5 separate regions of the Homo sapiens genome follow, and regions 1, 2, 3 and 5 are each linked to region 4. Evidence: fine-mapped expression QTL. A gene starts in region 4. Each other region holds a variant in brackets. All regions are shown on one strand. Distances are from middle to middle.

The links. PIP is the estimated chance that this variant, and not a neighbour inherited with it, causes the effect.
Region 1: its variant is the best candidate, but not a certain one, in a credible set for the expression of PDXDC1 in cerebellum (GTEx, PIP 0.52).
Region 2: its variant is the best candidate, but not a certain one, in a credible set for the expression of PDXDC1 in spleen (GTEx, PIP 0.78).
Region 3: its variant is the best candidate, but not a certain one, in a credible set for the expression of PDXDC1 in tibial nerve (GTEx, PIP 0.56).
Region 5: its variant is the best candidate, but not a certain one, in a credible set for the expression of PDXDC1 in whole blood (INTERVAL, PIP 0.79).

The regions. Positions count from the first base shown.
Region 1 is chr16:14,870,385-14,875,485 of GRCh38, forward strand. It overlaps NOMO1 (NODAL modulator 1), which reads left to right. Exons shown (of 31, transcript NM_014287.4): 17 at 1,237-1,300; 18 at 1,850-1,945; 19 at 4,652-4,870; 20 at 4,956-5,038. Among named protein-coding and RNA genes, the nearest start is that of MIR3179-1, 29 kb to the right of the region's middle. The variant T/C (reference allele first, on the strand shown) is at 2,535.
Region 2 is chr16:15,790,525-15,795,627 of GRCh38, forward strand. All of the region lies in intron 4 of MYH11 (myosin heavy chain 11), which reads right to left. Among named protein-coding and RNA genes, the nearest start is that of MYH11, 64 kb to the right of the region's middle. The variant T/C (reference allele first, on the strand shown) is at 1,992.
Region 3 is chr16:15,310,903-15,316,005 of GRCh38, forward strand. No RefSeq gene overlaps it. Among named protein-coding and RNA genes, the nearest start is that of NPIPA5, 65 kb to the right of the region's middle. The variant A/G (reference allele first, on the strand shown) is at 1,973.
Region 4 is chr16:14,971,864-14,976,966 of GRCh38, forward strand. PDXDC1 (pyridoxal dependent decarboxylase domain containing 1) reads left to right here and starts at 3,163. Exons shown (of 23, transcript NM_015027.4): 1 at 3,163-3,357. The coding sequence starts at 3,337. RefSeq lists a silencer at 2,029-2,323 and an enhancer at 2,481-3,244.
Region 5 is chr16:15,009,535-15,014,637 of GRCh38, forward strand. It overlaps PDXDC1 (pyridoxal dependent decarboxylase domain containing 1), which reads left to right. Exons shown (of 23, transcript NM_015027.4): 8 at 147-225. MIR1972-1 (microRNA 1972-1) reads right to left here and starts at 863; the gene lies at 787-863. RefSeq lists a silencer at 3,476-3,581. The variant T/C (reference allele first, on the strand shown) is at 2,141.

The DNA of each region.
Region 1 (5,101 bases), 100 kb before region 4:
CTCTCCTCCAGTAAGCTACTTGTCTGTATTATTGGCCAGAACCGTGCCACATGGTTACTTCTAGCTGCAAGGGAGGCTGGGACAGTTGGATGTGCTACCCGAGGCTGAGCACGTTGCCACCCTCAACATAACCAGGGTTTGTTCTCAAGGCAGGAAGGATGCCTGTTGAGGAAACAATGAGCCAGCCTGTGAGGCAGATGCTGTTCTCTGTGGACATGTCCTCCTGCCCCTCCTAGCTGGGGCCTTCTTACCCATCAGTTCAGTATTGCTTCCCTGGGGAAGGATGGCCTCCAGGGCCACTTAGGCCTGCCTCCTACACTCTTGCTATCAGCACTCACTTCTATCCCCTTCTTGCATGTGCCACAATTGATATGTTTGTGGCTGTCAAATGCTCCCCCTCTCTGTGGATGGTAAACTCCATGAAGACAGGGACCACTGCTCTGTCATTCCCCACTGTGTACCAGTACCTAGCATAATACCTGGCCAGGAAGAGGTGCTCTGTCGATATTTGTTGAATGAAAGACCAAACAAAACAAACAGAGAAACCTGATTTTTTTTTTTTTTTTGATGGTAACTACTCTGGGGCTTGTTGAGTGCAATGAAAACAGCAGGGTGGTTTTAGCTAATTTCAGGTTTTTGTAGGAAGTGTGGCCAAAATATTGGTTAATGATGATTTGGGGGAAATACATTGTTATTCCTTGTATCTTCCTGAAATTGACTGTGTTCCTCTGGCAAGTGATGAAATGTACCCCTAGCCGGAGTGTCCTCCCACACAGACTCACACTTTTCTGGGGCTTCCCTTACTCCTTACCTCCTTTTTAGGAATATTTATAGGAAGAAATTGAGGCTGTGGTTATCTCTTGGATCCTTAATAGAATCTTTTAAGTAGGAAATTATCCTCAGTCCAATTTGCAGTAGAAACGTACTTTCTGTTCCTTCTCGTGCATGGGTCCGTTCACCTGGTCTGTGCAGATTTAACTACTGTGAGTTGTTACCTTATGGAAAATGAAAATCATGCGCCTGTGATCGCGCCATTGCATGGATCGGGTTATTGGTAAGACGCCTTCATAGGCAGTGAAAACGATGCCTGCCCAGTATTTCTGATCCCATTATTGCAGATCTGCGATACGTTTGAGTTTTCACATGCAAAGAGCTGCCACTCGATTTCAGATGTCGGAATTGCTCGGTGTAATAGATGCCATTCTCTGAAAATTACTTTTGATTTCCTGTCTGTAGGTGTGTACAAAGTGACCCCTCGCTCCTGCCACCGGTTTGAGCAAGCGTTCTACACCTATGACACGTAAGCCTGGGAATTGAATGCTTTGTGGTGTTTGTATACATTCCGTGGAGGATTCTTCATTTACTTCAGAGAACAAAAGGAGTTTTTCTGTTTTTTTTTCTGAAAGAGGCAAGGTTAGGCCTTCAACAGCATTTCTAGATAAGGATTTTAAGACACTTGGATTAGTTACTGAGGAACCGGAGACAGGATCCCTTTCCCAAGAATTCTGTAACCCCAGGATAGAGGGCTGTGTTTTTGAAGTGCCTTAAATAGAAGCTTTGTCAAATCTCCCAGCCCTCACCGATGGGCGTCTGTCAAGTTCAAGTCTGCCATTTTTGTATTTTTACAGAAGTGTGTGGGTTTCACTGGGAATTGGAAGCATAAAGTTGTGGAGTGGAGAATTAGTTTACTCTTTAAAATACTTCTCTGGATCTCCAGAGTTATTTTACCCCAGACTAAGAGCAATTTTCTGTAGTATATTTAGGGTGAAGAAGGATGCCCAAAAAGGGTATTGCTGATGATCTTCTGAGAATGAGTAGGTTCTAGCGTTTCCTCTGCTTTGATTTGTAGGTCTTCACCTAGTATCTTGACATTGACAGCCATTCGCCACCATGTCCTTGGAACTATCACCACCGACAAAATGATGGATGTCACTGTGACTATCAAGTAAGATGAGCGTTCTGCAGTGGGCCGAGAGTGGCGGGAGAGGGTGTGGATGAGGCCTGGGGAGTCTCTAATAGGCTCTCTGGAAATTAGTTTTGATTTCTTATCTCTAGATGTATATACAAATGGCCTTCCCTCTCTTATAGGACATTGCCGTCAATTCCCAGCAGCCTTGATCCTTTCCTTTTCTGATTCAGAAATTACCTGTGGGTGAGGAAGAGCGTTGCGACAGCTTGTTTCAGTGTCTTCAATTTCTGTTTGAACTCTTTGTACTTCTCATCTTTGCTAAGGAAAAAAAAAATCTCTGGGGTTTGTGCATTGTATTTCAAGTGTTTTAGCAAATTCAAATTGCCTATTTTTCTTTAGACTTTTGCTTGAAGGCTTGGGAAATAGAGATGGCACCTGGTATAAGAGAAGGGTCGTGAGAGAGGAAGTATTTGAAAGGCAAGTCCCTCACCGAAGGTCACGTTCATGTGAATGTCACCTTTCAGGGAATTTTTGCAGTGTGGTGAGGTACCTGTGACGCCCCAATTTTCTTGAGAAATGAACGAGTTTTGGCAACATGACCGTCTCTGTCAAGTAGAATGGGCAT[T/C]GCAGTCCCTGTCTCCCTCCTGCCCCTGGTTGAAGTCACCTTTCCAGCTATGTTTCCATCTTTCTGTCCACCATCTGTTTATCCATCCGTCATCCCTGCAGAGTACATGATGACTGAAAAACTGAGAGTCTTCAGTGTTTAGGCACTGGGCTTATGAGGCCACAGCCCCTACACTTATGGGATTGACAGTCTCATGGGGGGAACAGTGGTCAGATACTCACATGCAGAACCGTAAATGACAACTGTTCTGAGTGCTTTGAGCTTGACCTTGGGGGCATGCAGGACAGGTAGGCTGCGGGGGGCCAGGCCATGTTAAGGTCCATAGTCTTTGTCCCATGATGCAATTGACATGTTTTACATAGAGGAATGACATTTTTCTTCCTGAAAGGTCCCCCTATTGGCCGAGTGGAGAACAGACAGAAGAGGCCTGAGAGTGGGAGGTGGTGGAGGCAGGGGGAGGCAATGGGGGCCCCAGACTAGTGGCTGCGGAGATGGAGAGCGACGGACTGGTCGGAGAGTCGTTGAGGGACTGAGTTGATGAGACATGGCACTAAAGTGACCACTGGGTTAGGGCGGGAGAAATGTCAGGGCTGGCCCTGGTTTCTGGTGATGGGGAGCCAGGTTTTTAGCTGGGGGTGGATTTGCCGAAGGTCTGTTGCTGTCTTTTACTATCATTTACTGTCTCCCTGCTTGGAAAGTATGAATTACTGATAGGACTAGCAATCTACCTTCTTACCAGTAGTAACTGCATATTACCTCCTTTCAGCTTGATTACATTCATTTTTGTAACTTCACAAGGGTGTTTGTGTTGCTTGCTTGTGCCGGAGGTTGTATGGAATGCATCTTCCAGCTAGACAGAGCCACTCGGATTCCCCCTGGGGATCTTGTACTCAGCAGACCCAAAACCCGACTGCTGACAGTTGCCCTCCATGAGCCCCTCTGTGGTCTTTTCTGATTCAGATATGGCAGCTCCCGCTTTCTCCTTGTTTCTTGATTCTTATTTCCCTTGAACCCTAGGCCCAGCCAATTCCCCAACAAAGCCTTGGCTTTACAATCAAAATACACCCGTCATCTAGTCCCTTTTTACCACTTGGCCCTCAGCCTTGGTCTGACCCCCCTCTGGGGTCACTGTAGCAGCTTCCCAGCTGGGCTTCGCTTCTTACCACGTGGCCCTCAGCCCTGGTCTGACCCCCCTCTGGGGTCACTGCAGCAGCTTCCCAGCTGGCCTTCCTGTTTCCGCCATTGCTTTGTGTATTTTCCATGAAGGAGCGAACGATTTCTTTTATCATACCATTCCTCGACTGAAAACTCCAGTGGCTCCAGGTCGGCACCAAGCCTGTGAAGCCTCAGTCTGACATCTGCTGCCCCTTGGACCTCTCTGTTGGATATGACTCTTCCGTGGGCCCCTGTGCCCCAGGCTGGACTGGTGTTGCCATTGCTTGAACATCTGAGTGAGCTTTCTCTCCAAGGACTTTGCACTTGGCATCGCTTTTCCCAAGCTACTGTTTACCCAGAGAGCTGCGTGGCGCATTCTCTCCCTTCCTTCAGACCTTTGCTCAACGTCACCTTATCAGAAAGGCCTTGACTGTCCCTTTAATGTAAAACAGTGCTCCGGGCTCTCCGTCTTCCCACACTGCTTTATTTTTCTTTATTGCACTTTTCCTCTGGTATTATTTTTCTCTTTATTTTCAGCCCCTTCCCATTGAAACGTGGATTCCACAGGGGTAGGAAGTGTGGTCTGTTTTGTTGATGCTGTATCCTTGGTGCCTAGTTCTCTATCAGAGCAGTTCTCAGCGAAGGTAGAATGGAGAACAGAGGATGGTGGTGTGGAGAAAACTCCATGTCCTACATGGAAGCTACAAGCTTATATCCAGTCGCCATAAAATCAACCGTATTTCATTCCAGCCCAGATCTACCAGATACTGCCACCATCACTGCGAAGCTCAGTTGTTATTTTTTGTGAAACTACTAGTTTATTTAAAACAGAAGACTCCGCCACTGTGGTGTCATGATAAGATGTCCAGTTTGTAACTCGCAAGTCCATACTCGTAGAAAGGTCAAATTCCCACTGACCACAAGGATACGCAACTATGTCCTAGGGGCCGTCTTTCTTCTAGGTCTTCCATCGACAGTGAACCCGCCTTGGTCTTAGGCCCTCTGAAGTCTGTGCAGGAGCTGCGGAGGGAGCAGCAGCTGGCTGAGATCGAGGCCCGCAGGCAGGAGAGGGAGAAAAACGGCAATGAGGAAGGCGAAGAAAGAATGACCAAGCCTCCCGTGCAGGAGATGGTAGATGAGTTACAAGGCCCCTTCTCGTATGATTTCTCTTACTGGGCGCGGTAAGCTCTCTTGTGCGTTTCCCTACAGTGTCCTCTGTTTTGTGGGGACAGGACCCGCCAAACTGAAGTATATTAATTATTTTAGGTCTGGAGAGAAAATCACTGTTACACCGTCATCTAAAGAGCTGCTCTTTTATCCCCCTTCAATGGAAGCCGTTGTCAGTGGAGGTAAATGTCAACTCAGCGAGCGAATGTCACACACACCTTTGCAGTTGTTCCCTTGCCTGCATT
Region 2 (5,103 bases), 820 kb after region 4:
CCAAGCTCCAGGCTCGTGGGCGTCTGAAGGTTGATGTGCTTAGAGCTGGTTCTAGAAACATTCATAGCTTGGCTTTTCTGACCCCTGACCTCTAGGGGTGAAGATGCCTTCCTGGTCTGAGCACCCTAAACTCCTTTCTTATTTCTTGGGGAATTTGGTACTGAGCTCCCTCTTCCCGGAGAAGGACCAGACTCATGACCACGTTATGGCCTCCTGGCCTTGTAACTACCCCAGTGCCAAGTCCTTTTAATCAGTCCAGCCCCAGCAGCTGGGAAGAACCACCCAATGGCCACTTAATCCCCCAGCCAGGCTGGCTTCATGAGTGTGACCTGTACCGTCTCACAGGGACCACCCTGTGCTTCATACTCTAATGTTGCCATCTGGAAATTCTTCCTAATTCTTTATAAACGCTCTGCATTTTTTTTCTTTTCTTTTTTTTTTTTTTTTTTTGAGACTGACTCTTGCTCTATTGCCCAGGCTGGAGTGCAGTGTGTGATGGCGGCTCACTGCAACCTCTACCTCCCAGGTTCAAGTGATTCTCCTGCCTCAACCTCCCAAGTAGCTGGAACTACAGGTGCCCGCCACTATGCCTGGGTAATTTTTATATTTTTAGTAGAGATGGGATTTCACCATGTTGGCGAGGCTGGCCTCGAACTCCTGACCTCATGTGATCTGCCCGCCTCAGCCTCCCAAAGTGCTGGGATTCCAGGTGTGAGTCACTGCACTCAGCCAGCATTTTCATTTTGCAAAATTCTACAAATTCTGCAGCTGGTCCTGGCTCCCAGGGTCGAATATTGCCAAGTCCATTGCAGCCTGTGGTTTGCCACTGGTAGGAAAGCCAAATTGTCTCTGATGAACCTCACAGCTATTCAGTCCCTGGTCTTTATGTGACTGGCAAAGCACCCTGGCATTTTGTACTGTACAACTCCTACACGTCCTGCAAAACCCCAGGCAGAAGCAACGCCTCTCTCCCCTATAGCATCAATTGGCAGAATAGCATAATGGGCTCCAGGACCAGGTTGCTCAAGTTCAAATCCCTCCTCTGCCAGTTACCTGGGTGACCTTAGGCAAGTCATTTAGCCTCTCCATACCTCAGTTTCTTTACCCCATTATAAAATGGGTATAATAAAAACACTTACCTTGTATGATTTTTTTTTTTTTTTTTTTGAGACAAGATCTCACTCTGTGGCCCAGGCTGGAGTGCAGTGATGCAATCATAGCTCACTGCAGCTGAGAATTCCTAGGCTCAAGTGATACTCCTGCCCCAATCTCCCAGGTAGCTGGGACTACAGGTGCACACCACCACAGCTGGCTGATTTTTAAATTTTCTGTAGAGACAGGGGTCTCGCTATGTTGCTCAAGCTGGTCTCGAACTCCTGGTCTCAAGTGATCTCTAGCCTCAGCCTCCCAAAGTGCTGGGACTACAGGCATGAGCCACCATGCCTGACCTTTTATATGATTCTTATGAGGATTAAATGAGTGAACATTTATATAAAATGCTTAGAACAATGCCTGGTATGCCAAAATGTTAGTTATTATTACTTTTGTTTTTTGAGACAGAGTTTTGCTTCTTGCTCAGGCCGGAGTGCAGTGGCACAATCTTGACTCACTGCAATCTCGAACTCCTGGGTTCAAGTGACCCTCCCACCTCAGCCTCCTGAGTAGCTGGGATGACAGGCATGTGCCACTACACCTAGCTAATTTTTTGATTTTGTGGGGTCTCGCTAAGTTGCCCAGGATAGTCTTGAACTCCAGGCCTCAGGCAATCCTCCTGCCTCGGCCCCCTAAAGTGTTGGGATTACAGGTGTGAGCCACTGTGCCCACCTATTATTACTTTTATAACCACTGCTTCCACAGAAGTTATATATTGTTTGTATAATGATTTTCAGCATTCATCCTATCATTACAATATAAATAATATTCACATTTTCCCACTGTTTAAGCTAGGAGTTAGCAAACTCTTTTTGTAAAAGGTCAGACAGTAAATATTT[T/C]AGACTTTGAGGGTCACGCATTCTTTGTCACATCTGCTCAGCTCTCCACTGCAGCACAAAAGCAAATACGTAAACAAGTGGGTGCGGCTGTGTTTCAATAAAACTTTATCTGGAACAGACAGACAAGGGCCTGATTTGACCCACTGGTTAAACTTTGTCCTTCCTTGGCTTGAGTCCCTTAGCACGTTCTCATCCATTTCATTTATTTATTTTATTGTTATATATATTTTTTGAGATGGGGTCTCACTGTGTCACCCAGGCTGAAGTGCAGTGGTGCAGTCTTGGCTCAGTGCCAACTTTCTGCCTCCCAGGCTCAGTGAACCGAGATCCTCCTGCCTCATCCTCCTAAGTAGCTGGGACTACAGGCACATGCCATCACGCTCAGCTAATTTTTGTTTTTGTAGAGAGGGGGTTTGGCCATGTTGGCCAGGCTGGTCTTGAACTCCTGAGCTCAAGCGATCAGCCTGCCTTGGCCTCCCGAAGTGCTAGGATTACAGGCATGAGCCACCATGCCCAGCCTGTCATCCATTTTAGACGAAAGTTTAAACTCCTCCCCAGGGCCTGGAAGCACCCCCTTACCTCTCTCTAATTTTATGTGAAACCACCCTCCTCCTCTTACTTTAGCCCCCTGATCACACAGCTCTATCTCCAGCCAGGCCCATGGCCTCTAATTAAACTGATTATACTGGATGGATTACATGCTAGACAAAATACAACTCAGGCCTAAAAATTACATTTATTCAGCTTTCAGTTTCCTTCCTTTCTTGTCTTCCTTCCCTTCCTTTCCTTCCTTCCTGTCTCTGGGTCTTGCTCTGTTGCCCAGGCTGAGGTGCAGTGGTGCCATCATAGCTCACTTAGCCTCTAACTCCCAAGCTCAAGTGATCCTCCCTCCCCAACCTCCTGAGTAGCTGGGACTACAGGCATGCACCATCCCACCTAGCTAATTTTTAAATTTTTTGTAGTAATGGGGTCTTACTGTGTTCCTCAGTTTGGTCTCAAACTTCTGGCTTCCAGCCACCCTCCCGCCTCGGCCTCTCAAGGCCCTGAGTTTCCAGGCATAAGCCACCACACCCAGCCAATTTTCAGTTTCTTTTCTTTTCTTTTTTTTTTTTTTTTTTTTTTGAGACAGAGTCTCGCTCTGTCACCCAGGCTGGAGTGCACTGGCGTGATCTCAGCTCACTGCAAGCTCCGCCCCCCAGGTTCACGCCATTCTCCTGCCTCAGCCTCCTGAATAGCTGGGACTACAGGCACCCGCCACCATGCCCGGCTAATTTTTTTGTATTTTTTTTAGTAGAGATGGGGTTTCACCGTGTTAGCCAGGATGGTCTCGAACTCCTGACCTCGTGATCCACCCGCCTCGGCCTCCCAAAGTGCTGGGATTACAGGCGTGAGCCACGGTGCGTGGCCAATTTTCAGTTTCTTTTCTTTTCTTTTTTTTTTTTTTTTGAGACAGAGTCTCGCTCTGTCACCCAGGCTGGAGTGCAGTGGTGCGATCTCTGCTAACTGCAAGCCCCGCCCCCCAGGTTCACACCATTCTCCTGCCTCAGCCTCCTGAATAGCTGGGACTACAGGCACCCGCCACCATGCCCAGCTAATTTTTTTGTATTTTTTTAGTAGAGATGGGGTTTCACCGTGTTAGCCAGGATGGTCTCGAACTCCTGACCTCGTGATCCGCCCGCCTCGGCCTCCCAAAGTGCTGGGATTACAGGCCTGAGCCACAGTGCGCGGCCAATTTTCAGTTTCTTAACTGCATAACCAAACAGTTGGCTCCAGCCTGGCTTCTCTTAAGCACCAACTACGCGTAAAAGCTCAGCCCTGCTGTCAACTTGTAGGTCCTTCAAGTCACTTTGGCTGAATTTCACAACAAGCAAAATAAAATTGAATACAGAGACTGAAGATGTTGGTGGTTCTGGGCTGACTGGATGCATTTGCAAATAAAAGTCTGATCGTTTTGGGATTTCCTTCCTAACAATGGCTAAGGCCTCCTTCTCCAGCACTGGCTGTGTGTGGGCAGTGTGCCAAGTCCTTGCTAACGCTGCATTCCAGGAGATGGAGATACACAATAGCCAAGTAAACAAATAATCAAGATAGTTCGTGGTGGAGATATCATTGCTACATCTGGGTGATGTGACTGAGAAGATCGAGGGGAAGGGAGGAGAGGGGAGGCTGTGGATGGGGAAGCCAGGGAGTTGCTGAGCCTTGAAAGTTACAAGAGAGCCCTGTGGGAAGGATGGAGGGAAGGGTGGGCCAGGCAGGGCAAACAGTATGGACAGAGGTCCAAGGGAGGGAAATGCTGGGCCCAGGTATGAGACAGAATGGCTCCCAGCATGGCTGGAGGGCCACAACAGAGGAGGACAGCAGGAAGTGAAGAGGGAAGAGCAGATCACACTCAGTCTTCCAAGTCACAGTAAGGAATCTGAGTTTTATTCTCATGGGTGCAGGAAACCATTTCACGAGGGGAACGGGACTTTAGAACCAGTGTGGGGAGAATCAGAACTGCAGGATGGGCTGGGCGAAGTGGCTCATGCCTGTAATCCCAGCACTTTGGGAGGCTGACTGAGGTGGGTGGATCACCTGAGATCAGGAGTTTGAGACCAGGCTGGCCAACATGGAGAAAACCCATCTCTATTAACAATACAAAAATTAGCTGGGCATGATGGCATAATACTCGGGAAGCTGAGGCAGGAGAATTGCTTGAACCCAGGAGGCGGGGGTTGCAGTGAGCCAAGATCGCACCACTGCACTCCAGCCTGGGCAACAGAGTGAGACTCTGTCTCAACAAAAAAATCAACAACAACAACAAACTGCAGGATGGGCCAGGCTCAGCGGCTCATGCCTGTAATCCCAGCACTTGGGAGGCCGAGGCTCCCCGGGTCACCTGAGGTCAGGAGTTCGAGACCAGCCTGACCAACATGACAAAACCCTGTCTCTACTAAAAATACAAAATTAGCCAGGCATGGTGGTACATGCCTGTTATCCCAGCTACTCGGGAGGCTGAGGCAGGAGAATCACTTGAACCTGGGAGGTGGAGGTTGCTGTGAGCCAAGATCACGCCATTGCACTCTAGCCTGGGCAATGAGAGCAAAACTCCATCTCAAAAACAAACAAACAA
Region 3 (5,103 bases), 340 kb after region 4:
TGAATGATTGTGATGCCAACCCCCTCACAGTTGGAAATCCACCTATAACTTTTGACTCCCCCAAAACGTAGCTACTAATAGCCTATTGTTGACCAGAAGTCTTACCAATAACACAAACAATAGACACATATGTTGTATTTTAGATGATTATACACTGTATTCTTACAATAAAATAAGCCAGAGAAAACAATATATGATTAAGAAAATCATAAGGAAGAGAAAATGTATTTGTTATTCATTAAGTGGAAGTGGATCATCATAAACGTCTTCATCCTCATTGTCTTCACATTGAGGAGACTGAGGAAGAGGAGGAAGAGGAGGAATTGGTTTTGCCGTCTCAGAGGTGGCAAAAACAGAAAAAAATCCATGTATAAGTGGACCCATGTGGTTCAAATCCATGTTGTTCAAGGGCCAACTGTATTTATATTACAATAAATGCTGTTAATGTTGTCACTGTTGACCCTTCTATTCCATTCCCAACATCACTTCCTATGCCCAGTGGAAAATTCCATCTTAAAATCACCCAGCCCAAGCCCTCTTCAGTAGACTCAGATAGATGGCTTGTCAAGGGCATGACTTAACTTCTCCAAACACAACCAGCCCAGTTTCAACTGCCATTTGGGGAACTTTCCCAATTACCACATTTCCGCACGTCAAGTATGAATTACTTTAATTGCCCCAGAAGAACGCACTGTTGAAACATTTGACTTGCCCAGAACTAATTGTCTGTCAAAAAGATATTTTGCAGCCAAGCTGATCTCTTAATTGGACATCTAATTTAACTGAAAACCTTTTTCCCTGCTTGTTTTATGCTTTCTTCTCCTGTTTTTGCCAAATTCTGGATGCTGGGCACTGCTTTCAGAAATAATTTATCTTGTTATTTTCTATTATAAAAGTAATACATGTTCATTATAGAAAAACTGAAAAAAAAAATTCCACATGAAGAAAAACAGTGGATCCTAGACTCATTGCCCAGAGGAGGACTATGAACATTCCACATGAAGAAAAACAGTGGCTCCTAGACTCATTGCCCAGAGGAAGACTATGAACATTCCAAATGAAGAAAAACAGTGGCTCCTAGACTCATTGCCCAGAGGAAGACTATGAACATTCCAAATGAAGAAAAACAGTGGCTCCTAGACTCATTGCCCAGAGGAAGACTATTAACATTCCACATGAAGAAAAACAGTGGCTCCTAGACTCATTGCCCAGAGGAGGACTATGAATATTCCACATGAAGAAAAACAGTGGCTCCTAGACTCATTGCCCAGAGGAAGACTATGAACATTCCAAATGAAGAAAAACAGTGGCTCCTAGACTCATTGCCCAGAGGAAGACTATGAACATTCCAAATGAAGAAAAACAGTGGCTCCTAGACTCATTGCCCAGAGGAGGACTATGAACATTCCAAATGAAGAAAAACAGTGGATTCTAGACTCATTGCCCAGAGAAAGACTATGAACATTCCAAATGAAGAAAAACAGTGGATCCTAGACTCACTGCCCAGAGGAGGACTATGAACATTCCAAATGAAGAAAAACAGTGGATCCTAGACTCATTGCCCAGAGAAAGACTATGAACATTCCAAATGAAGAAAAACAGTGGATCCTAGACTCACTGCCCAGAGGAGGACTATGAACATCTTAGCAAGTCTCCCCTCAGGTTGTCCTAGAATAGATGTCTCTACGTAGTTAATAAAAACATACATTCAAGTTTTGCAGCTTTTTGTTCCACTTTACATTTTAAGTTGAACGTTTACACTTCCCATTCCAAGATCTTCAGAAACATGTTTAGAAACAGAAGAATATCCCAACAACAGTCTGTTTAACCTCTTCCCCTAATGCTGAACTATTGTTGCTTTAAGCATACATTTTCTGTGTGTGTTTCAGATGTAGTTTCCTTAGGAAAGATTCTCTATGCTGTGCAACAATTCCCCATGTGTCTCTTACATTTCTGCACATCTTGTGTCAGC[A/G]TTTGTTCTAGACCGTCTTTATAAGGATGTTTGTATAGCTAATAGCATTGGAAGATAGGGCTAATATAGTAGAAGACAGATTTATTTGCTGATTAGGATTATAATAATAATATCTCCGGACCAGGCGCAGTGGCTCATGCCTGTAATCCCACCAATTTGTGAGGCTGAGGCAGGCAGATGACCTGAGGTTGGGAGTTCGAGACCAGCCTGGCTAATATGGTGAAACCCCCGTCTCTACTACAAACACTTAAAAAATTAGCTGGGTGTGGTGGTGGGTGCCTGTAATCCCAGCTACTTGGGAGACAGGTGGGAGAATTGCTTGAACCCAAGAGGCAGGGGTTGCAATGAGCTAAGATCATACCACTGCACTCCAACATGGGTGTGACAGAGCAAGACTCTACCTCAAAAAAAACAAAAAACAAAAAAAGAAGAAGAAAAAGAAAAAGAAAGGATTATAATGACAATGTCTCCCTCCATCCAGGGTAAAGGTTGAAAAGACCAAGATTCCTAAACTTGGGGTTCCTCAGGTGTGATGCAAATCCACTGCAGGCACAGATTCTACCTGGATCCATCCGTGTATTACTCATTTCTCACACTGCTAATAAAAACATACCCAAGGCTGGATGTGGTGTCTCACACCTGTAATCCTAACACCTTGGGAGGCCGAGGTGGGCAGATTGCCTGAGCTCAGGAGTTTGAGACCAGCCTGGGCAACATGGTGAAACCTCATCTCTACTAAAATACAAAAAATTAGCCAGGCATTGTGGTGCACACCTATAATCCTAGCTACTCAGGAGGCTGAGGTGGGAGAATCGCTTGAACCCGGGAGGTGGAGGTTGCAGTGAGCCAAGAATGCGCCACTGCACTCCAGCCTGGGCGACAGAGTGAGATTCTGTCTCAAAAAAAGAAAAAAAAAAGGCTAGGCATGGCTGTAATCTCAGCACTTTGGGATGCTGAGGTGGGCAGATCACCTGAGGTCAGGAGTTCAAGACCAGCCTGACCAACATGGAGAAATCCCATCTGTACTAAATATACAAAATTAGCTGGGTGTGGTGGTACATGCCTGTAATCCCAGCTACTCAGGAGGCTGAGGCAGGACAATTGCTTGAACTTGGGAGGCAGAGGTTGGGGTGAGCTGAGATCCTGCCATTGCACTCCAGCCTGGGCGACAAGAGTGAAACTCTGTCTCAAAAAAAACAAAAAAACAAACAAACAAAAAACATACCCTAGACTGAGTAATTTATAAAGGAAAGAGATTTAATTGACTCAGGGAGGCCTCGGGAAACTTACAATCATGGCAGAAGGGAAAGCAAACATGTCCTTCTTCACATGGCGGCAGAAAGGGGAAGAATGAGCAAAAGAAGAAAAAGCCCCGTATAAAACCATCAGATTTTGTGAGAACTCATTCACTATCATAAGAACAGCATGAAGATAACTGCCCCCATGATTAAATTACCTCCCACTGGGTCCCTTCCATGACACATGGGGATTGTGGGAACTACAATTCAAGATGAGATTTGGGTGGGGACACAGCCAAACCATGTCAACCTGTGTCACCCTTGAGGGACTTGGGGGTCAAAGGGAACTGGTGCAGACATGAAGCTCAAGCTTCCTGTTGTGCCATGAAAAATAAAGTCCTTTATCTCTCAATCCAGAGTCTCATGTCTTCTGCCCACATCCATAAAACTCACTAGCCTCCATGTAGGATAATATCTTAGACCAGCACAGTTCTTGACACTCTAGAAGTGAATTTGTTGGATCAAAAAGCATGAACAATTGCTAAAACTCTTAATATGTCTTGTCAATTAGCTCTCCAAACAAATATGAGTCATTGCCTGAAATCTCTTTTGTCCTCAGGAAGGGATAGAGCTGCTTGACTCAGATCTCTCAGGTGGCCTTAGACTGTAATGTCTTCCTTTCGTGCAGAGCTCTTACCATCCTAAGCCACTACACCTACCTAATATTCTATAAAAAGCTTTTTCTCCCTACCCAGTGTCTCCAATGAGCTGACTTTCTTTTCTGGATTACTCTTTTATGTAATAAAAAGTAGACATGAGGGTCAAACAGAAAGGGAAAAAGGGGAATTTGTTTAATTTCTACCAAGTGCCAGGCATAGTACAAAGAACATTTAGATAAGGCAGAAGGCATTAATTATTTTTATCTACCCAGAACCCACTGCCCCACCTAAGCACCCCAGCCCCTGACCTGGCCACGTGGGTGGCTATGTGACCTGAGCTGAACCAATCAGAGTCCTTCCCTGGGATTTTTTTCACATCATAACCACATGAGAAGGTCTCCCATTATGAAACAGAGAAGCTTGTTGGCAGCCATGGTTCTAGCCAAGGATGGAAAAAACAACCAAAAAAAGAAAAGAAACAAAAAAAACCCACCATGGTAAAAAAATACATATATAAAAATAAAAAAGATATGAAAGACAGACAGACATGGGGAATGGTCTCTTTCCAGTTGCCCCTGCCACTCAACTGCTCTCCTACCTTCCTGGATTTGGTTATGAGAGTCAATAAATTATCCCCTTTTATTGCCTAAATGACTTCCATATGAGTTTCTGCTCCTTGCAACCAACATAATCTTGACAATTAATAGTAGCTAGCATTTTGTGAGTGTTTACTGTGCCATGCCCATTAATACACCTAATCCTCTCTACAATTGGACAGGTAAGGTGCTTTTAGTAACCTCCAATGTACAAAAAGGAAAACAAGTTGGGTGAAGTGAAATGACTTGCTCACAGTCGCTGGGCTAACAAGGGGGCAGAGTCAAAGTTTAAAGCCAGAGCCCATACTCTTCCCTATTGTATAACACAGACATGCTGTCTCTGTTCCCAGTGCTGGGGAATGCAGAGAACTGGGGACTGAAGGAAGAGCAGGCGTTCAGGTAAGCATTAATCAGGGGACCTTCCACAAGGGAAAAGGGAGTACTGGCCCAGTTGAAGTCCAGCCAGCACTCAGCATGGTCAAGGATGGGGTGGTGCTCTCTCCAGCCATTCAAGGTGCTGAGAAAAGAACAGAACTTTCATCTGAGGAATACAAGCCTTTTAAATTATTAGGCCCAGAGAGGCAATAGAACGAGATAGCAATCATGTCCTACATACCCCCTTTGAGCTCGGTATTCAT
Region 4 (5,103 bases):
TGCAGTGAGCCAAGACTGCGCCGTTACACTTCAGCCTGGACAACAGAGTGAGACTCGTCTGGAAAAAGAAAAAGAAAGAAAAAGACAGGTCTGTTAGCAGCACATAAAGCCATATGTCAGTAGAGATTAAACCTCCCCACAACTGATGGCTTCATGCTCCAAACTGTACAATATTCTGCTTATCTCTCTTCACTAGTCCATAGAATGTTGCATTATAATGTATCAGTTTTCCTATCTGTGCATCCACAAGCCAAATGGTTTCAACTTTTTTTTTTTTTTTTCGGGGATGGGGGAATCACAGACTTGAGTATATAATGAAGACAATGGATGTTTTCCCCAGAAAAATGCACTCACTCACACACAAAATGTTGAGTATAGTTTCAGAGACCTCCATCTGCATCCCAAAGTAAAAACTTCTACCCAAAATAGTGTTTTTCTTCAGGGCAGAGAGCTTGTCTTTGTTTTGTGTGTGTGTGTGTGTGTGTGTGTGTGTGTGTGTGTGTGTGTGTGTGTAGACGGAGTCTTGCTCTTGTCGTCCAGGCTGGAATGCAGTGGTGCAATCTTGGCTCACTGCAACCTCCGCCTCCCAGGTTGAAGCGATTCTGCTGCCTCAGCCTCCCGAGTAGCTGGGATTACAGGCGCACACCACCACACCCACTAATTTTTCTATTTTTAGTACAGACGAGGGTTTCACCATGTTGGCCACGCTGTTCTCCAACTCCTGACCTCAGGTGATCCGCCCACCTCGGCCTCTCAAAGTGCTGGGATTACAGGCATGAGCCACCGCGCCCAGCCTTTTTTAAATTTTTAAATTTTTTATTATATTTTGTTTTTGAGACAGAGTCTCGCTTTGTCGCCCAGGCTGGAGTGCAGTGGTGCGATCTCTGCTCACTGCAAGCTCCGCCTCCCGGGTTCACGCCATTCTCCTGCCTCAGCCTCCAGAATAGCTGGGACTACAGGCGCCCGCCACCATGCCCGGCTAATTTCTTTTTGTATTTTTGGTAGACACGGGGTTTCACCGTGTTAGCCAGGATGGTCTCGATCTCCTGACCTCGTGATCCGCCCGCCTCGGCCTCCCAAAGTGCTGGGATTACAGGCGTGAGCCACCGCGCCCGGCCCAGCCTCTTATTTGTATTTTTATTGTTTTTTGAGATGGAGTCTCGTCTTATTGCCCAGGCTGGAGCGCAGTGGCACAATCTCGGCTCACTGCAACCTCTGCCCCCGGGGTTCAAGTGATTCCCCTGCCTCAGCCTCCCAGGTAGCTGGGATTACAGGTGTTTGCCACCACGCCCAGCTAATTTTTTGTATTTTTAGTAGAGACGGAGTTTCACTCTGTTGGCCAGGCTGCTCTTGAACCAGCCTCTTATTCTTTTACATACTATTTCCAGCACAACTGTCCAAGATGGCAGTCAATAAATGTTTGGCTAAATATAATAAATAATACGGTTGATTATTTCCACTTTTTCATGTTGGGTTTTCAAAGTCTACTTTTAAAACAGTAAAGTTAACTTTTCTCTCTAGTATTTGTTTTGTAGAATCTATTATACTTTGTAATGTAATCCACAGAAACTTGGAGGTGACTTTAGTAAAATTTACTAGTTTTGAATGATACCCATGCTGAGGTGCTCAGAGGTGAAATGTACTAACATATATCGATGGATGGATATATGGATGCATATGTGATTAAAGCAAATATAGGGAAAATTAACTGTAGAATCTAGGTAGTGGGTATATGGTTGTTCACTGTACAACTGTTTAAACTTTTCTACGTTTGAAAAATTTCATAACACGTTGGAAAAGTGACTTGTTTTGCTCAAGCAGGGGTACATTCAATCTTCAATTCTTGAAAGACATAAATCTATCTTTCCTTCTGTTTGGAAAGCTCTTTAGAGAGTCAGAATAATCCCCACAGTACAGTCTAAACCAGCACACAAGGGTTTTTTGGTAGAAAATAATTTTATTAACATAACCAGGCAATTTACCAAATACAACGTAGATAGCTCAAAACATGGAGTTACTGCGCTGAAAATGTGACCCTGTTTACACAGATTTCGGGACGAAGAGTATAAAACAGGAGAGAAAAGGAGTAAGATTGTGGTTGTAGCGTCATCGCAGAGGTGAAGTGTTCCATTGATTGCCACTGTGGTAGTCTATATCAGTTTCCCACATTAAGGTGGGAGGAATCTACTAAGCAAATGTACGCCCTCCCCATTCGTTCGAAACACATTGCAGTAAAATTGCAAAAGTGGCCGGGCGTGGTAGCTCATGCCTGTAATCCCAGCACTTGGGGAAGCTGAGACGGGAAGATCGCCTGAGGCCAGGAGTTTGAAGCCAGCTTGGGTAACATAGTGAGACACCCCTACCTTCTCTATTAAAATGAGATTTTAATTTTTTTTCTCTTCAGTTCATCGGTTAACAAGATAAAAAAATTAATAAAAAATTAACTTTTTAAAACATTTAAAGTAAAGTAGGAGTGGAAGCAGTATGTGGACTCATGGGGCTTGGGTCTGAATCCTACCTAGATCGGCACTGCGAAATGGGGATAATGATCTCCTAGAGCTGCTGAAATAGGAAAATGGAAGAACAGCAGCTGATGTATTAATATTATCATTATTACTACTACCCATTACCTGACAAGTGATAATTGTGACATGAAAGAGGCTGGACCGGTTGTTACAACAATTTTTTCCGTCTAGAATTCGGCGGTAAGGTCTGAGACAACACCTCAGCTTAGATCAGTGCCTTCTCTGAACAGCGTTCACTAAGCAGCCCCCAACCCCAAAACCCCCAAGTCCCCGGGCGCCGAGGACGCTGCGAGTCCTGCGCATGCGCAAGGTTGCCCACTCGCTCACCGCCTCCTTGGCGAATGGCCTGTTCCATTCTCGAGGGATGCCGGCGGGAGGTGAGGCGGGAGACTTGGAAGCCTGGGCCCGGAAGTGAGGTGCGTCACTAGTATTTCCAGCCTTTCACTCCATGAATAGTACTTTGTGATTATTATACTTCTACCTTGATGATTGCAACAGGCTGCTGGAAAGAGTTTGGTGAACAATCCACCGGGCATCCTCCCCCCTTCACCTGCGCACGTTAGGGAGGGCCGGCGTGGCGCCCAGGTACGGAATCCCAGAGGGCTCCGCCCAGCGCTACGGGGCCCCGCCCCGCCGCCTCTCAACCATCAGGTTCGGCAGCCCGCGGCGCCGCCTGGCAGCTCCTCCTCTTCTCCGCCCCGCCGGCCGCGGGCGCGGGGGACGTCAGCGCTGCCAGCGTGGAAGGAGCTGCGGGGCGCGGGAGGAGGAAGTAGAGCCCGGGACCGCCAGGCCACCACCGGCCGCCTCAGCCATGGACGCGTCCCTGGAGAAGGTCCGTGCCGGGAGGGGGCGATGGGGACGGTGCTGCGGCCCGGGGCTCCCGCTTCCGAGGCAACTGTTTCCCAGTCGCGAGCTGCCATTGTGACCCGGACAGGGGGACGCGGGCTGACAGGCCCTGCCTGAGGAGGCCTCGCCGGGAGGGCGGCTGGGGCCCGGGCGCGTCACGGGGCCGGGTGTCTCTTGGGTCCCCGTGGGCCGAAGAGGCTGGGCGGGGTTCGGTGGGGGCCGCGACGGGCCCGGAGCCCAGGACTGGGACCGCGGGGCCGACCTTGGGCCCTGCCGAGGTTCCGCGAGTGGCCGGCCTGAGCTCGGCTGGCCCTTTCGGAGGACCGGGAGCTCTCCGTTGGCGGCCCCAGATGCTCCCGGAAAGAAGCCGCAGTTATTTCAGAGCCAGCTGCAAACCTGTAGGTTTTTCTTGGTCTCCGAGTTAGGAATGAAAATTGCCAAAGCAGTGGTTTTCCAACTTCAGCCTGAGTGGGAATCACCTGGGGCCTTTGGTAAAATGCGGAGGTTCAGTCCCGGGGTCAGAACCTCTGGGGGCGGGACCGGGAACTGCGTGTTTAACCGCCACCGCCCCGCTCCCACTCCGCCCCACGCAGGTGATTCTGATGCTGAGCCTGCGATCACCGGGCGAGAACCTCTGAGTTCCAGAAAGGGGTGGGTGTTGCGTAGATTGCGAATTGAGTTTTGGGGATCGCAGCTGCTCCACAACTTCCTGGCTCCCCCATTCCAGTGGCGAGGAGGGATCCCCGAGTCAACTCGAAATCCACTGGTAACAGAGCCTACCTCTGGTTTCCCCTTGGGGGAACGGCAGCGTGGTGTACCAGGCTGACTGCTCTACCATGTGAAACGGATTCTCATTGTCCCAGTGTTAGGGCTTGTAAATGGAAACCAGTTTGGGTTTCTTCACGGATTCCTGCTTTCGGTACCTGACATTCTGCCCTCCCTCAAAGCCCTTCTGTCTGTTCCAGCTTGGGAGTCTGCTTGTCCAATCCAGTGCATACCCGGTTTTTCATGCATGTGGCATTCAGGAGCAATGCTCGTGTTTTAAGACGGCTACATTTTAATTTTGAGCTGGTAGGAATAATATATTTTGTCTTTTTTCAAGGCAGCAGCTGCTGTAGATTTTGTTCACTTGTCACTGGAGAGTTGAAGGCAATAATTGTAAAGGTTGGGCCAGATGTCTTCATGTGCTCACAGTGGTATAGCCTACTCCTGGGTTGCTTAGCATAAATTGGGTGGAAGACAAGAAAAAGATAATATGGTTTTCTTGTGCCATCTCTGGGGTGAATGTTACGTGTTTTCCTGGCTGGGAATAAAGTCTTTCCGGTCGTCTGATTAGCAGGGTGTCTACCTTTTGGTACTTTGAGTTTGTCCAGATGAGTGGTTCTTAAAGCAGGGGGCAATTTATTTCCCCAGGAGACATTTGGCTATCTCTGGACATAGTTTTGATTGTCACAATGGGGGCAGGGAGGTGCTGCCGGTACCTAGTGGGTAGAGGCCAGGGACGCCTCTAAACATCCTACGTTGCACAGGACAGCCCCCCACGCTGGAGAATTCTCTGGCCCAAAATGTCAGCAGTGTTGAGGCTGAGAAATCCTGGTCAAGATCATGTTTATAACACCAGCAGTTGAGTACAAAACGATGCAAAGTGGTGTTATCAATTTCCTAAGAAGGTGGGTGGGCTTCATGTGATTGTAATTGGAATCCTGAAGAACTGGGGTGATCTTTCCTCCAG
Region 5 (5,103 bases), 38 kb after region 4:
TGAGAGAAAACAGAAAAATTGTCAAGAGTAAGAATTGATTTGACATTACTTTTGAGAGTTATCTGCTTCTTTTGTAAGTCATAATTTTTCATTTTATAGCTTTTATACTGGGCACCTCATTTTTTAATGATTTGTTTTGGTTCCAGGATGTTGCCTTCCTGGAGAAACTGATTAAAGATGATATAGAGCGAGGAAGACTGCCCCTGTTGCTTGTCGCAAATGCAGGTAGGTAGCATGATGCTGAATCTACCATTTTGAATATATAGGAGCGAGGCTACGTCCTCAGCCTATAAAAGATAAAGTCTTAAGAAATGTGTGTGTACCACATGTTTAAGATAGTCCATATCCACATTGTAGCAAAAACTGTAATAGTAAGGTTGGCTCGTTAGATTTTTCTTTAATCGTTGGTTTGTTTTGGAAGTTATTTTATGTGTGTGTATACTTTTTCATTTAGATGGTAAATGCTTCTCTATCTTCTCCTTCATGTACTTCTTTTCCCTGTTCTAAACTGAATTTTATTTTATTTTTTTGAGATAGAGTCTCACTCTGTTGCCCAGGCTGGAGTGCAGTAGCACAATCTCACCTCACTGCAATCTCTGCCTCCCGGGTTCAAGTGTTTCTCCTGCCTCAACCTCCTGAATTGCTGGGATTACAGGTGCATGCCACCACATCTGGCTAATTTCTTGTATTTTTAGTAGAGACAGGGTTTCACTATGTTGGCCAGGCTGGTCTCGAACTCCTGACCTCAGGTGATCCGCCTGCCTCAGCCTCCCAAATTGCTGGGATTACAGGCATGAGCCACTGTGCCTGGCCTGAATTTTTAAATGACACATTTAAGCCAGGTGTGGTGGCACATGCCTATAGTCCCTCTACTCAGGAGACAAGCAAGATGTTGGCTTAAGCTCAGAAGTTCAATACCAGTCTGGGTAACATAGCAAGACCCCATCTCAATAAATAAATAAAAATAATTGTACTGACGTTGTAAGATTGTTGTAAAAATTAAACAAGAAAATTCATAAGATGTCACACTTAAATATCTACCTTATAGGCGGCAGAGCAACTACCACTTGCTGCTCCATTTATCTCATTCAGCATCATACTTGAAATCTAAGACAGTGCAATAAGGCAAAAAAAATAACTGACAGATTAGAAAGGAAGAAATAAAACTTTGTTTGCAGGCATGATTGTATAGATAGAAAACTAAAGAAAAGCTACTGGAACTAATGATCAAATCTAAACCATTTTCTGGATTTTTACATACTAGCAAAGAAGAATTGGAAATTGAATTTTAAATGTCATTTATAATAGGATCAAAAAAGATGAAAAATTTATGGATAAATTTAACAAAATATATGCAAGATCTGTACATTGAGAACTAAGAATGTTACTGAGAGAAATTCAAGAAGACCCAAGAACGATATGCCATACACACGGGTTGGAAGACTAAGTATTAAGTCAGTTCTTCCCAAACTAATCTGTAGATTCAACTTGATCCATCTTAAAATCTCAGCAGGCTACAATTTCTTAATAGAACTTGATGAGCTAATTCTAAAGTTTATATAGAAATACAAGGGATCTAGGAACAGCCCAAGGGATTTTGAAAAAGAACAAAATTGGAAGACTTACCTTGTCATACTTCAAGACTTCTGTAAAGTAGCAAGTAAGACTGTGTGAGATTAACCAAAGAAAATAGAGAATTCAGAAATAGACTCATGTGAAGTATATGGACACTTCAGGTTTTTACAGATGCCTGAGTAATTCGAGGGAGAAAGGACCATCTTTTTCCATCAGTGGTCTTAGAGCTTGGATATCCATATGGAAAAAAACTGAATCTTAACCCTTATCTTATTCTCTGTATATATAAATATTAACTATAAATGGTTCATCAACCTAAGCATAGATCTAAGACAATAAAATGTCTCAAAGAAAATACAGGAGATCTTTGTGACCTTAGGTTACATTTCTTAGGATACAAAATATGTGAACCATAAATTGTACTTTATCAAAAATTAAAAGCATTAGCTGTTTGAAAGCCCCTATTAAGAAGATGAAAGGCAAGTTACAGACTGGGAGAAATATTTGCAAAACATTTTTTTCTTTTTTTTTTTTTTTTTTTGTCTTTTTCTATTTTTATTTTTTA[T/C]GTTTTTGAGATGGAGTTTTGCTGTGCTGCCCAGGCTGGAGTGCAGTGGTGCGACCTTGGCTCACTGCAACCTCCGCCTCCCAGGTTCAAGCGATTCGCCTGCCTCAGCCTCCCGAGTAGCTGGGATTACAGGCGCACGCCACCGTGCCGGGCTAATTTTTGTATTTTTAGTAGAGACGAGATTTCGCCATGTTGGCCAGGCTGGTCTCAAACTCCTGACCTCAGGTGGTCCACCTGCCTTGGCCTCCCAAAGTGATGGGATTACAGGCGTGAGCCGCCACACTCAGCCAGCCACTGTCCCAGTCCTGTCTTCTTTTAAAATTTCTTTTTCATTCTTTTCCCCAGAAGCTACAAAACATTTGTTTGACAAAGAACTTGTATCTAAAATATATAAAGAACTGTTACAACTCAATAAGGACACAAGCAATACAATTTTTTTTTTTTTTGGAGATGGAGTCTCATTCTGTTGCCCAGACTAGAGTGCAGTGGTGCGATCTTGGCTCACTGCAACCTCTGCCTCCCGGGTTCCAGTGATTCTTCTGCCTTAGCCTCCCGAGTACCTGGGATTACAGGCATGTGCCACCACACCTAGCTAGTTTTTTGTATTTTTAGTGGAGATGGAGTTTCACCGTGTTGGCCAGGCTGGTCTTGAACTCCTGACCTTAGGTGATCTGCCTGCCTTGGCCTCCCAAAGTGCTGGGATTACAGGTGTGAGCCACTGTGCCCGGCCCACAATACAATTTTTTAAATGAACAACAGATTTGAGCAGATACTTCATCAAAGAAAATGAAAATGTATAGCACTTGAAAAGATGTTTAACATCATTAGTCATTAGTGAAATGCAAATTAAGATCACCATGAGACATTACTACATGTCTGTTAGAATGGAGAAATTACAGGTGGCTCACACTTGTAATCCCAACACTTGGGAAGGCTGAGACTGCGAGATCAATTGCCCTCAGGTGTTCGAGACCAGCCTGGGCAACATGGCGAAACCCCTAGGAAATCTCTACAAAAAATACTAAACATTAGCCAGGTGTGGTGGTGTGTACCTGTAGTCCCAGCTACTCCAGAGGCTTTGGTGGGAGGTTGGCTTGAACCCAGGAGAGAGAGGTTGCAGTGAGCCAAGATTGTGCTACCATACCCCAGCCTGGGTGACAGAGCCAGATCCTTTCTTAAAAAAAAAAAAAAAAAATTCTTTAAAATATAATGTCAGGCCAGGCACAGTGACTCAAGCCTGTAATCCCAGCACTTTGGGAGGCCGAGGCGGGCAGATTACGAGGTCAGGAGATCAAGACATCCTGGCTAACATGGTGAAACCCCGTTTCCACTAAAAATACAAAAAAATAGCTGGGTGTGGTGGTGGGCACCTGTAGTCCTAGCTACTTGGGAGGCCGAGGCAGGAGAATGGCATGAACTCGGGAGGCAGAGGTTGCAGTGAGGTGAGATCGCACCACTGCACTCCAGCCTTGGTGACAGAGTGAGACTCTGTTTCTGTAAAAAATAAATAAGTAAATAAATAAAACTTGCCAGGTGTGGTGGTGGGCACCTGTAGTCCCAGCTACTTGAGAGGCTGAGGCAGGAGAATGGCTTGAACCCGGGAGGCGGAGCTTGCAATGAGCCGAGATTGTGCTACTGCACTTCAGCCTGGGCGACAGAGTGAGACCCTATCTCAAAAAAAAAAGAAAAAAAAAAAAAAAGGCAAAAAACTACAGTGACAGAAGCAGATCAGGATTTTCCAGGGCCAGTGAGGAGTCAGGGAAAGGGTAATTATATTGGGGTTGATGGGATTTGGGGGTTGATGGAAGTATTCTGAATCTTGATTGTGTTGATGGTTACATGCTCTATATATTTGTCAAAACTCATTGGACCGTATACTTACATGAGTGAGTTTTGTTGCATGTAAATCATACTACAATAGGCCGAGCATGAGAGCTCATGCCTGTAGTCCCAGCACTTTGGGAGGCTGAGGCAGGCAGATCACAAGGTCAGGAGTTCAAGACCAGCCTGACCAATGTGGTAAAACCCCATCTCTACTAAAAATGCAAAAATTAGCCAGGTGTGGTGGTGTGCACCTGTAGTCCCAGCTACTTGGGAGGCTGAGGCAGGAAAATCGCTTGAACCTGGGAGGTGGAGGTTGCAGTGAGCCAAGATCGCACCACCGCACTGTAGCCTGGGCGACAGAAAGGGTCTCTGTCTCAAAAAAAAAAAAAAAAAAAAAAATCATACTACAATAAAACTGCTTATTTAGGCCGGGTGCGGTGGCTCATGCATGTAATTCCAGCACTTTGAGAGGCCAAGGCGGGAAGATCACCTGAGGTCAGGAGTTCAAGACCAGCCTGGCCAAAATGGCGAAACCCTGTCTCTACTAAAAATATAAAAATTAGCTGGTTGTGGTGGCAGGCACCTGTAATCCCAGCTACTTAGGAGGCCGAGGCAGGAGAATAGCTTGAACCCAGGAGGCTGAGATTGCAGTGAGCCGAGATTGCGCTGCTGCACTCCGGCCTGGGCAACAGGGTGAGACTCTGTCTCAAAAAAAAAAAAAAAAGACAAAATAGAAAAACCACATAAATATTCACTTTATTGCCAACAGGAAAACCATCACTTCCTGCCTTATTGTTTAAAAACACAAATTCACCCATATTCAATCACATGATAAACTGGAGGGGCTGCAGTTTGCATGTGACTGAGTGACTTGCCAGTGTGATTATGTTGCAGATGTCAGCAGACACATGTCAAGGGTTAGTCACCAGACATTGCCAAGAAATACGAAAAGAGAATCTGCATGCGATCCAGGCACTAACACAGCAGTACGCTTTTATTTTGCTGGAAGAGCCTGTGGCACAGCCCATGCATTGACATTTGATCTTGTTTCAGCTAAACTAAATGTGTCTGTTAAGATTTTTTTTTTTTAATTTGAGGTAGATTTAGGTATGAGGGGAAAAAGTTTTCAGCCCTTTTCC